2 separate regions of the Homo sapiens genome follow, and region 2 is linked to region 1. Evidence: fine-mapped expression QTL. A gene starts in region 1. The other region holds a variant in brackets. All regions are shown on one strand. Distances are between the middles of the regions.

Region 1 (5,373 bases):
TCCAGGCTGGTCTCAAACTCCTGGCCTCAGGTGATCCTCCCACCTTGGCCTCCCAAAGCACTGGGATTACAGGCATGAGCCACTGCACCCAGCGTGTTTGTTTTTTAAGGACAAAATAATTTGAGCATGTTTGAAAGCTAAGGAAAAAGAACCAGAGAAGAGAGTAGATTAAGGAAGTAAGAAAGAATGTTTGCTGCAGCAAGATTCTAAGGCTTCAGAGTAGCAATATCTAGTCTAGGGATTGCTGTTCTTCAGATGCACACCTTTTCTGTTATCCCTGAATGTTGGTAAAATCATGTGAAACTTCACAGTGTGGGTTCAGTCTTGCTGTGGGGAGGGAAGGGAAGGAAAGGGCTGGTTCACTTCTGGCCTGGAAGATTAGGGGGAGCAATGTCTCCTACAGCTAGGGCATGGCCTATGCCAGCCTCCCCATCTGATGGGGTCCTGCCAGAGGGTAGGGCCATGTCTTCAATTTCAAAATCCTACATGGCAAAAACATAACCTGCAAACCAGAATGTCAGTGCTAGGGCCTAGGCCGAACAATAGTTTTCCTGTAGGAATGGGGAGTATGTGTGGATGTAGAGCTGGGGGTAAGGCTTTTGTGCAATTCAGCTTCACCAGGCTTGAAGAAGATGCAGTGAGGACAGTCAGGACCTGAGTATGAGAGTGGGACCTGGGTATGAGTGTGGAAATCCATCTTAGAACCTTAAAATTCCATACTCTGAGGTAAAGCTGAGAGGCTCCACAGGTCTATGAGGGTTTTTCTTTGTTTCCCAGGGACTGTAAGGTGCCCAGATTCTGAGGTAGGTGCCATAGGAATATTCCTCATAGCACAAGCATTATGTCGGACAATGTTCTGCTTATCTATTACTGAGTAACAAACCTCTCTAAAACTTAGAGGCTTAAAATAACATAAATCATAATTTATGAAAAATTATAAATAATTCATCACTTAAGGGTTAAATGATAAATGAGTTATTTCTTAGGATTTTGGATAAGTCACAGTTAGGAAAGACCTGTTACTGTTGTAGGTAACATGGAACAGCCCAGACGGTTGGAATAACCCAACCCAGATAGCTTCTTCACTCAATGACTGATCCCTTAGCTAGGATGGCTCCACCAGCTGAGCGGCCCAGCTCTCCCTCTCCAAGTCCAAGTGGTCTCTGCACATGGTTTCTCTCCAGCAAGGTGGCTAACGGGGTGCAGCTCATGACCACCAACAGCTCAAAATCAAGGCTGCCAGGTCTTTTTTTTTTTTTGAGACAGAGTCTCGCTCTGTCCCCCAGGCTGGAGTGCAGTGGCGCGATCACGACTCTCTGCAACCTCTGCCTCCTGGATTCAAGCGACTCTCCTGAGTAGCTGGGATTACAGGTGTGTGCCACCACGCCCGGCTAATTTTTGTATTTTTTGTAGAGACAGGGTTTCACCACGTCGATCAGGGTGGTCTCGAACTTCTGACCTCGTGATCTGCCCGCCTCGGCCTCCCAAGGTGCTGGGATTACAGACGTGAGCCACCGTGCCCGGCCAAGGCTGCCAGGTCTTTTTTAAGCTCAGAGCTAGAAACAAGACATTGCTACTCCTACCAACTTCTTCTATTGGTGAAATTGAGTCATGGTTTCTCATGGTCTCAATCATGACCCAGCCCAGATTCCAGGGTCAAGGACCATAAAAGGCTACATTGATGGAAGACATGTCTCATTGAGGGACACCAGAGTAACAACTACCAGACAAGAAGGGGCAGGTCTGTGTGAGCGCCATTTCCTAATTCTATATTGCCCACTCTTCAGAGAAGATGGTTGGAGGGCAAATTGTGGGGAGCAAGGTAACTCCAAACTTTTACAGAATTAAAGGTAGGGGGTCTGGTCAGCTACAGTCCATCTGTTATCAAGAGGCCTGGCTGTGTGTCTTCATTCAGTTTATTAGGCATTTACTGAGCACAGCCTACATGCCAGGTTCTTCATTTTTTGACACAGGGTCTTGTGTTGCCCAGGCTGGAGTGCAGTGCTGCGACTGCGGCTCACTGCAGCCTTGACCTCTCCAGACTCAAGCGATCCTCCTGCCTCAGCCTCTGGAGTAGCTGGGGATACAGGCGCGCACCACCATGCTCGGCTAATTTTTGTATTTTTAGTAGAGACAGTGTCTCACCCTGTTGGCCAGGCTGGTCTCGGATCCCAGAGATCAAGTGATCCGCCTGCCTCAGTTTCCCAAAGTGCTGGGATTACAGGCGTAAGCCTCCGCGCCCGGCCTATGCCAGGTTCTACATGTGTTCTTTCTTGACTCTTGTGTTACAGAGGCTCGAATGAAGCCTGGCTTCTACAGTACCGCACCCAGCACCTCGCTGCGATGCAGCCTCCTGTACCCTTTCCGTCCGGCAGCTGGAGTTAGGGCAGAGTGCCGGGTCTCTAGGAGGGCAACACTCAACGCAGTCGGCTCCTAGGCATCCAGTGGGGCTGCAACCCCGCCGCCGGGGACGAAAGGCGAAGGGGGAAAACTAGAGCTTTCGCCGGCCGGGACAGCGCAGCCGGGTTTCAGCTCGTTCTACGGTCCACGTCAGAAGATCGCCTCCGGCGCCGCGGACGCCGGAGACCACTGTCTGCGCCCCCGCACGCACGCACCCACGTACTCGCGCACGCGCGCGCCGGCCCCGCCCACCGCCCCGCTGTGGCCCCTTTGGACCGCACGAGCCACCGTCCGCACAGCCCCGCCCCGCACGGCCAGGCGAAGCGGAGCCGGCCGTGCGGTGTGTGTGTATGTGTTCGCGGGGCGCCGTCTCAGCCCCGGGAAGATGGTGGCTGCAGCGGCGGCAACTGAGGCAAGGCTGAGGAGGAGGACGGCGGCGACGGCAGCGCTCGCGGGCAGGAGCGGCGGGCCGCACTGGGACTGGGACGTGACCAGGGCTGGGAGGCCGGGGCTGGGGGCCGGGCTGCGCCTCCCGCGGCTGCTGTCTCCACCGCTGCGGCCACGGCTGCTGCTGCTGCTGTTGTTGCTCTCGCCGCCGCTGCTGCTGCTGCTGCTGCCCTGTGAGGCCGAGGCCGCGGCGGCGGCGGCGGCGGTGTCGGGCTCAGCCGCAGCCGAGGCCAAGGAATGTGACCGGCCCTGTGTCAACGGCGGTCGCTGCAACCCTGGCACCGGCCAGTGCGTCTGCCCCGCCGGCTGGGTGGGCGAGCAATGCCAGCACTGCGGGGGCCGCTTCAGGTGAGTGGCGGGTGGTGTCGGAGGGTCGGGTCCAACCAGAGGCTGGGGCTGAGGGGCGTTCGAGACGGCTCCAGGTCAGAGGGAGATGCTGGACAGAAAGTGGAGAGGGTAGGGCCGCCCTATGGGGTTTGAGGGCCATTTGCTTCCGGGGAGATCATCGTCTCTGGCCTGGGGTCTTTCTCTGTTGGAAGGTGAAAAGGTGTGGGGCAAGGGTGGGGGCACCCCGACGGTATTTGGGTGCTTAGGTTAGTTAGATGGGAAGAATGCTGAGGGACCCAAAGAGCATCAAAGCCGATCGCTCTAAAACTCGGCGTGTTTCAGCTAAACGAGGTATCCAAGGAAAGGTGGTCGAGCCAGGTTTGCTTGAACACTTCCTTTTAACATCCACATGTGCCCTAGGACCCGATGAGTTCCCCGATGCACTGGAGATGTGGGGTGCTCTGAAGAAACAGGGCCCTGGAAATGCTTTGTTGGCTGGAGATAAAAGGGAAAGGGTAGCATTGTAAGATATTAGGGATAGAAGGACCAGTGGTCCTTCTAAAGGAAAGTGAGGAAACTAGCCTTTTGGCAAAAGCTCCCTGGAGGTGGCAAATTGGAATAGGGTCTGTGGTGAAGAGGGAATGGAAGGAGATTCCTATTTGCCTTGGTTTCTGGACAATATGAAGTTCTGAATTGGCTTAGTTTGGGGCAGTTCCTCTTGGAGAAATCAATAAATTAATTAGCAGTTATCGTTATTTGCTTCAGTTGTGCAATGATTTTCCAGATAATACAGACAGATTAGCCAGACTTTGGCCTTGTCCACAGGGAGTTTGGAATATAGCAAGAGAAAGATAATGTGCGCACATAACCCTAGTCATAAGGGTTACAGAGTCATTCACGCCTTTGACAGGTATTTAGCTTACTGAACACATGTCTGATGTGGGGGAGTGGGGAAATGTGAACAAGACAGACAGGGCCTCTGCTCTCATTGACCTTAACATTCTAGTGGGAGCAACAGGCACTTAACAAGTAAATAAATGAGAGAAATAAACATGGTAATTTCAGGTAATGGTAAATGCTATCAAGAAAATAAAAACAGCGTGGTCTGATAGAGAATTATAACCGGTGGTGACTCTTGGAGAGGGTTCTCATTTGAAATGACATTTGATCTGAGACCTGAATGAGGCAACAGGGAACTTGTGGGAATTCAGGGATGGAGAGGTTGTGGCTAGCTGGAGGGATGCAAGGAGGACTTTGAGGAGGCGGTAACATTGGATTTGAGCATGTAAGGTTAAGTAGGATTTGGAAATGTGGAGCTGGAAAAAAATTACAGATGGAAAGAAGGGTGCAAACAAAGTTGTGGAGGCTGGAAAGTAAAGTTTTGCTGCTGCCTATGTGGAAGAGAGTTGTGAGAGAGGAGTTTGGAATAGCAAAATTGTAGACTTAGGTAATATTAGGTCTTCTGAGGAACTCAGAGAACGTTGAGCAGATGAGCTCTTTAGTTTTATGGATGGAGAAACCAAGTTACTTCAGGACCACTGATGCAGTGAAGCTGCTTTTGTAACTTAGGGTGTTCTGATTTATGAATTCCATTAACCTACATGTATTTGTTGAGGGCTCCTATGTTTTAGGTTGTGAGATACAGTGGTATACAAGACAGGCACAGTCCTGCTCTTACGGAGCTCACATTTCAGCTTGGGAGTAAAAAAATCCAACAAAAATTTTATTGTAATTTTGTTTAAGGCTGTGGAGGTAAAGAGCAGGAGACAAACAGAGGACTTGACTTAGTCTAGGGGTAAGGTAAGTCACTGAGGAAGCGATGTGAAGTCTGAGGGGTGAGATGGTACTACCTGCGTGAGGGGTGGGGTGCTGAGGGGCCAGCAGGTACAGAGGCTTGGGGTTGAAGCGGATGGAAGGCCAGGTGGCAGGAGCAGAGAGAGCAAAGGGGAGCTTGGCAAGACTGGAGAGAAAGGCGGGAAGCCAGGCCAAGTGGAGATCTGTGGGTTGGATTGAGAATTTTGACCTTTAGCCCAAGAGCTGTGAAATGGCGTAGTTCACGCCTATTTTCATGACATTATAGGCTTTTAGATTGGAGCCAGAATACAAATGGCCTTGAAGGTGAGGCCAGGGCATTTTCCATTTGAGAAGCTTCCAAGGTCAGGTGAATGGATGGTTGAGTCAGACGAGGATCCTTCAAGT
Region 2 (5,373 bases), 140 kb after region 1:
CAGTCTGTGCCTATAAGCAGGCTTTTGTGCTGGAGATGGCCATACTTGTTGCCAATGCCGAGTTTTTTTCCTCCCAGTTCCCTATTGCTCCACCCTCTGAAAGTCACTGAAGTGGTTTTAGAGCTTTCATTCTAGAGGGAGCTCTTCCCCACACTTACTTCTAAGAAGTAATAATTTTAAGTTTCATAATCAAGGAGATGTTGATTTTCTTCCTGGTTTTCTGGTGCTCCTTATCTTTTCTGGATCACTAACTTAAATTAAGATCCACTTATGAATGCTGCATTCAGGAGCACTTGTGAAAATAAACGATGGCATGCCCACCATTTAGTTTGCCAAGCTTTCCTTGAAAACGCAGGTAAGTTCTATTGCAAACGTGTCTTTTTGCTGTTTGGTACAAATGACTGCACTATTCACTGTGACTAGGCCCGTGTCACCGTGTGTTCTCAGTCCTCGCATGAGAGCCTGGTTGACACTGGTTCTCTCTGCTTTGGGGACCGTATCTGGCTGTGCGCTATGTGGAGGGCTGAGCTCGTGTCTTCCTGGGTAAATACATCATGTTCTCAACAAGGGCTGCATGTTTCTTTATTGCTGTTTTTTCCCCAGAGACTTAGCTTTTCTAGGTGTGTAGCATGGCTCTTAAATACACACATTTAGCAACTGTGCAAATTCAGTAAAAATGGAGAGACTTATTTAAGGAAGACAGTAGGGAAATGTCTAAATAGTGCAGTGTAGGCCATTCAGTTAAATTTCAGTATGGCTTTCGATGCAGGCAAAGCCGTTTTGCCTTTGATTCTCATTTTTTAAATTAGATTTTAAAAATTGAGATTCTCCTTTTTTAAATGAGATTTTAAAAATTGAGATTCTCCTTTTTTAAATGAGATTTTAAAAATTGAGATTCTCCTTTTTTAAATGAGATTTTAAAAATTGAGATTCTCCTTTTTTAAATGAGATTTTAAAAATTGAGATTCTCATTTTTTAAATGAGATTTTAAAAATTGAGATTCTCATTTTTTTAAAGCAAAGTAACTGAGGAAATCTAATTCTCTAGTTGGAAATTTGTGTAAGCATTGGGGCTTTAAAAATGGTAATACTAAACTCAAGTTCCTTCACTCTGAACCAATCCCAGGATTCTTTTCCATAATTAGGAACAGATCAAAACCTATAACTGCTGAGGGAATTTGAAACTGACTATAAAAATCTTTGTAGATGCAGCTAAAAAACAAACAAAACCCACAGACTGAAAAGTCCTGTTTCTGGGAGGGTGGCGGGTGTGTTGGGGCCGGTTGTGCCTGTTTTTTGATTGGTTGTTCCTGTGGGTGAGCACCCTTCCCTCTGCCCCTGCTTTCTGAAAGCTATCCTAGTTGTTCTCCCCAGTAAGCCGGGGCTCAGCCGGCTTCAGCTATGTCCATAGTTTGGGGGCGTGGGCGGTAGGTATTCAAGATAGAAGATGGTTGGACAGAAAGTGTGTGAGGTGGGAAGGTGGAGTGGTGAGGCTCTGGCTCGTTCCCGACTCTGCAACAGAGGTTGTTACTGTAATGTGGAGCTAATATAGAAGTCTGCGTGCTGGGTGTTTCATCTACTGTTTTATGTAAGAGGCCAGTGTTCACAAGTAAAGGCAACACAGAATTGGTATTGAGAACTGGGCATTCATTTAGATTTTAGAGTTCTGTTTATGGGTGCTAACAGGATCGCTATACTGAGCAAGGGATGTGTGAAACTTTTGTTCACTTGGATGTGCTTTTTTTCTTATAACAGCTTTATTGAGACATCATTTACATACCATACAGTTCGCTCATTTAAAGTACACAATTCAGTGGTTTTCAGTGTATTCACAGAAGCGTGCAGCCACCCGTCACTACAGCCAATTTTAGAATATTTTCACCACTTCCAGAAGAAGCCCCTAGCAGTCAGTCCTCATTCCCCCCTCTTCCGGCAACCCCCAGTCTGTATTTCCTGTCTCTGTGGATTTGCCTATTCTGGACATTTTATATAAATTGAGTCACATGATATGCTCTCACTTAGCATACTGTTTTCAAGGTTCACCCGTGTTTAGTATGTTTCAGTACTTATTCCTTGTCATAGCTGAATAATCTTCCTTATATGTATATACCACGTTTTGTTTATCCATTTTTCTATCGATGGATGCTTGGGTGGTTTTCACTCTTTGGCTATTATGAATAGTGTCAGATATACTTTTAATGTTTATATTTATTGTATAATAACAGTGCATATCCGTACCTCCTGGTGTTAATTGTCTGTATCTTAAGAGTTTTAAGAATTATATGGTTGTGCTGTAATTCTAGCACTTAGGGAGGCCGAGGCGGGCAGATCGCTTTAGCTCAGGAGTTTGAGACCAGGCTGGGCAACATAGTAAAACCCTGTCTCTACTAAAGTACAAAAAATTAGCTGGGCGTGGTGAAGTGTTCCTGTAGTCCCAGCTACTTGCAAGGCTGAGGCACAAGAATCACTTGAACCCAGGAGGCAGATGTTGCAGCGAGCCAAGATTGCACCACTGTACTGCAGCCTGAGCGACAGAGCAAGACTCCTGTCTCCAAAAAAAAAAAAAATTTTTCTTTATGATGAAACCCACAAGGCTGTACAAGAACCTTAAATATAGTTTGAAACAAAGAAAGACACATGCTTTTAAGTACAGTTTAATTCTTTTCTTTTTTCTTTTTTCTTTTTTTTTTTTTTTGGAGACAGAGTCTCACTCTGTCGCCCAGGCTGGAGTACAGTGGTGCAATCTTGGCTCGCTGCAACATCTGCCTCCTGGGTTCAAGTGATTCTCGTGCCTCAGCCTTGCGAGTAGCTGGGACTACAGGAACACTTCACCACGCCCAGCTAATTTTTTGTATTTTAGTAGAGACAGGGTTTTACCATGTTGCCCCCATCATTCTCAGCAAACTATCGCAAGGACAAAAAACTGAACACCGCTTGTTCTCATTCATAGGTGCAAACTGAACAATGAGGACGCATGGACACAGGAAGGGGAACATCACACACCAGGGCCTGTTGTGGG[G/A]TGGGGGGAAGGGGAAGGGATAGCATTAGGGGATATACCTAATGTTAAATGACGAGTTAATGGGTGCAGCACACCAACATGGCATATGTATACATATGTAACAAACCTGCATGTTGTGCACATGTACCCTAAAACTTAAAGTATAATTAAAAAAAAAAAAAAGAAAAATGTGTTATTCCTTTGTCTCGAAAGTCCCCTGCTTTTCAGCTTTCGCTTTGGTTGTCTCTTGTCAGCTCTTTAATGCTATTGTTCCCTTGGGTTTCATCTGGACTCTTTTTCCCTGGGCAATCTCATCCACACCATCTGGGAACATTGCCTTTGGCTGGACAGGTAAATCTTTGTCTCTAGCAGACTTCTCTCCTGTGATCTCCAGAGCCAGGAACCCACTAGACTTCCTTAAAATTCATTCAGCCAGCAGACTTTCTGGCCCAGAGCAGCAGCTGTGAGTGGACAGCAGGCACCTCGTTAGAAGCTCGGTGTTGGAGGTGTGCCCATGCATTCCTGGGAGCCATGAGAGGGGAGGGGAGTGCCCTGTGTCACCTGAGTCCAAGTTAAGAGAGATCACACCAGAGCTGATTCCTAAGGAGCATGGGGGCGGGGGAAGGGGGTGTTCGTGGTGGGGAAAGGAAATGACCAGCCCTTTCAGGAACTACCAGGAGTTTAGCAGAGCTGGTGACAGTGCTATGAGCAAGAAGGTGGAGAGCTGGGGAGGGCCATTATGAAGAGACTGGAGATTGCAGGCTGTGAACTTGAGTCCTGATGTGACTGGGAATTGTTGAGATGTTTTAGGCCGAAAAGTCACCGACGATCAGTGTTTAGAAAGACCCCACTGGCAGCAGTTGGGAGTGTGGATTGGAAGGAGCCAGGCCTAAGTCCTGGGAGGACTTAGGAGGTCCAGGAGTCCAGGGAGTCCAGGTGGAATTCTTGTGTAGAAACCCAGGGAAGGGGACCATCTGATGACACACATCCCATAGCAACTTCCTTTCCTCCTCTGCACCTCCACAGCAGAGTGTCTGTTTCCACTATACGAAGATTTCTTAATGGCAAGGATCGCATTTTTATCCCTCAGTGTCCTCAGTGTCATGTGCTAATCAGTTGGAGATACTCCCTAAATGTATGCCAGATGAGTATATAGTTGTTAGTATAAGGGCTTTACGGTAGGTATCAGAACTTTTTCTTTTTTACAACTTTTATAACTTTTATAAAGGAGCCGACACCTTTTTCTGATATTGTCAGAACAATTGCTGACCAGTGCTATGGGCTGGCTGAGGTTGGCAACCAAGAATCTGTTATCTCAGTCTACACAGCGTGGAGTTAGAAGATTGGATTGTTGTTGGTTAGAATTTTGTCCAGAGAGTTAGAAGATAGAAGAAAAGGGAGGGCTGAGGACATAAACATCCAAATTTTACAAAGAAGAAAGTTCAGTGCTCCTGTCAATATTGAAATAGTTAAGAGGGAAATGATTGGGTCTGGGGAATGCTTCAAAATAATATGATCATAGGGAAAGTAAGTGTAGTGTGGATGAAACAAGGTTGGCCTTGAGCTGATAATTTACTAAAGCAGGATGATGAGCGTGTGAGGTTCATTATAGTGCTCTTTCTACTTTTTAAAAAGCTTAAGATTTTCCAAAATGAAAAAGAAGCTGAGCATGGTAGCTCATGTCTGTAATCCCAGCACTTTGAGAGCCTGAGACGGAAGGATCACTTGAAGCCAGGAGTTCGAGACCAGCCTGGGCAATATAGTGAGACCCCCATCCCTACTAAAAAAGAAAAAAAATTACACAATGAAAAGAATAATACAGGTGGTAGAAGAAGAAATAAAGGTATGAGTATATGATTTGGCCTCCTACAGACAGCTACAGGAGCATGCCTCTGCTGGGCGGGCCTGGAGCATAGTGCACCCTGGAGCTGAAGTTCTGTTCGCCTTTACAGGAAGTACACAGCATTGTACGGGGGTTTTACCAGTTAACAGTGGACAGTCTCTAGAACACTCAGGGGTCAGGGGCAAAACTCCCTCTCCCTCAAACCAGCCCACCTGTCTTGGTGAGAATGGAAAACGGAGCTTCCCAGCAAGCCTCCTGCCTTCACCCCGACGCACAGGTGCATCAGGGTCTGAGGGCTCCTCCCTGTGGGGCCTGGGAAGCCGCCCTTCAGTGGGCTATGGCTGCATTGTCTTCTGATCTTGTAGCTGTGTGTGGGTAACAGGCACATCGTCTCCCCATATCCCAGAGAGTCATGTCCACTTCCTATCTGTGGTGGCATCTTTCCATCACTGTCACCCTCAGGATAATGGCACAGGAACTAACAGAGGCACTAAGAGCAGTGATATATACTGGAGGGAGGGGCGGGGCTGATG

The links. PIP is the estimated chance that this variant, and not a neighbour inherited with it, causes the effect.
Region 2: its variant is fine-mapped to the expression of ATRN in whole blood (TOPMed, PIP 0.93).

What each region holds. Positions count from the first base shown.
Region 1 is chr20:3,468,323-3,473,695 of GRCh38, forward strand. ATRN (attractin) reads left to right here and starts at 2,696. Exons shown (of 29, transcript NM_139321.3): 1 at 2,696-3,195. The coding sequence starts at 2,786. RefSeq lists an enhancer at 2,283-2,422 and a silencer at 2,523-3,082.
Region 2 is chr20:3,612,879-3,618,251 of GRCh38, forward strand. The region is part of intron 24 of ATRN (attractin); the gene reads left to right. Among named protein-coding and RNA genes, the nearest start is that of GFRA4, 48 kb to the right of the region's middle. The variant G/A (reference allele first, on the strand shown) is at 3,019.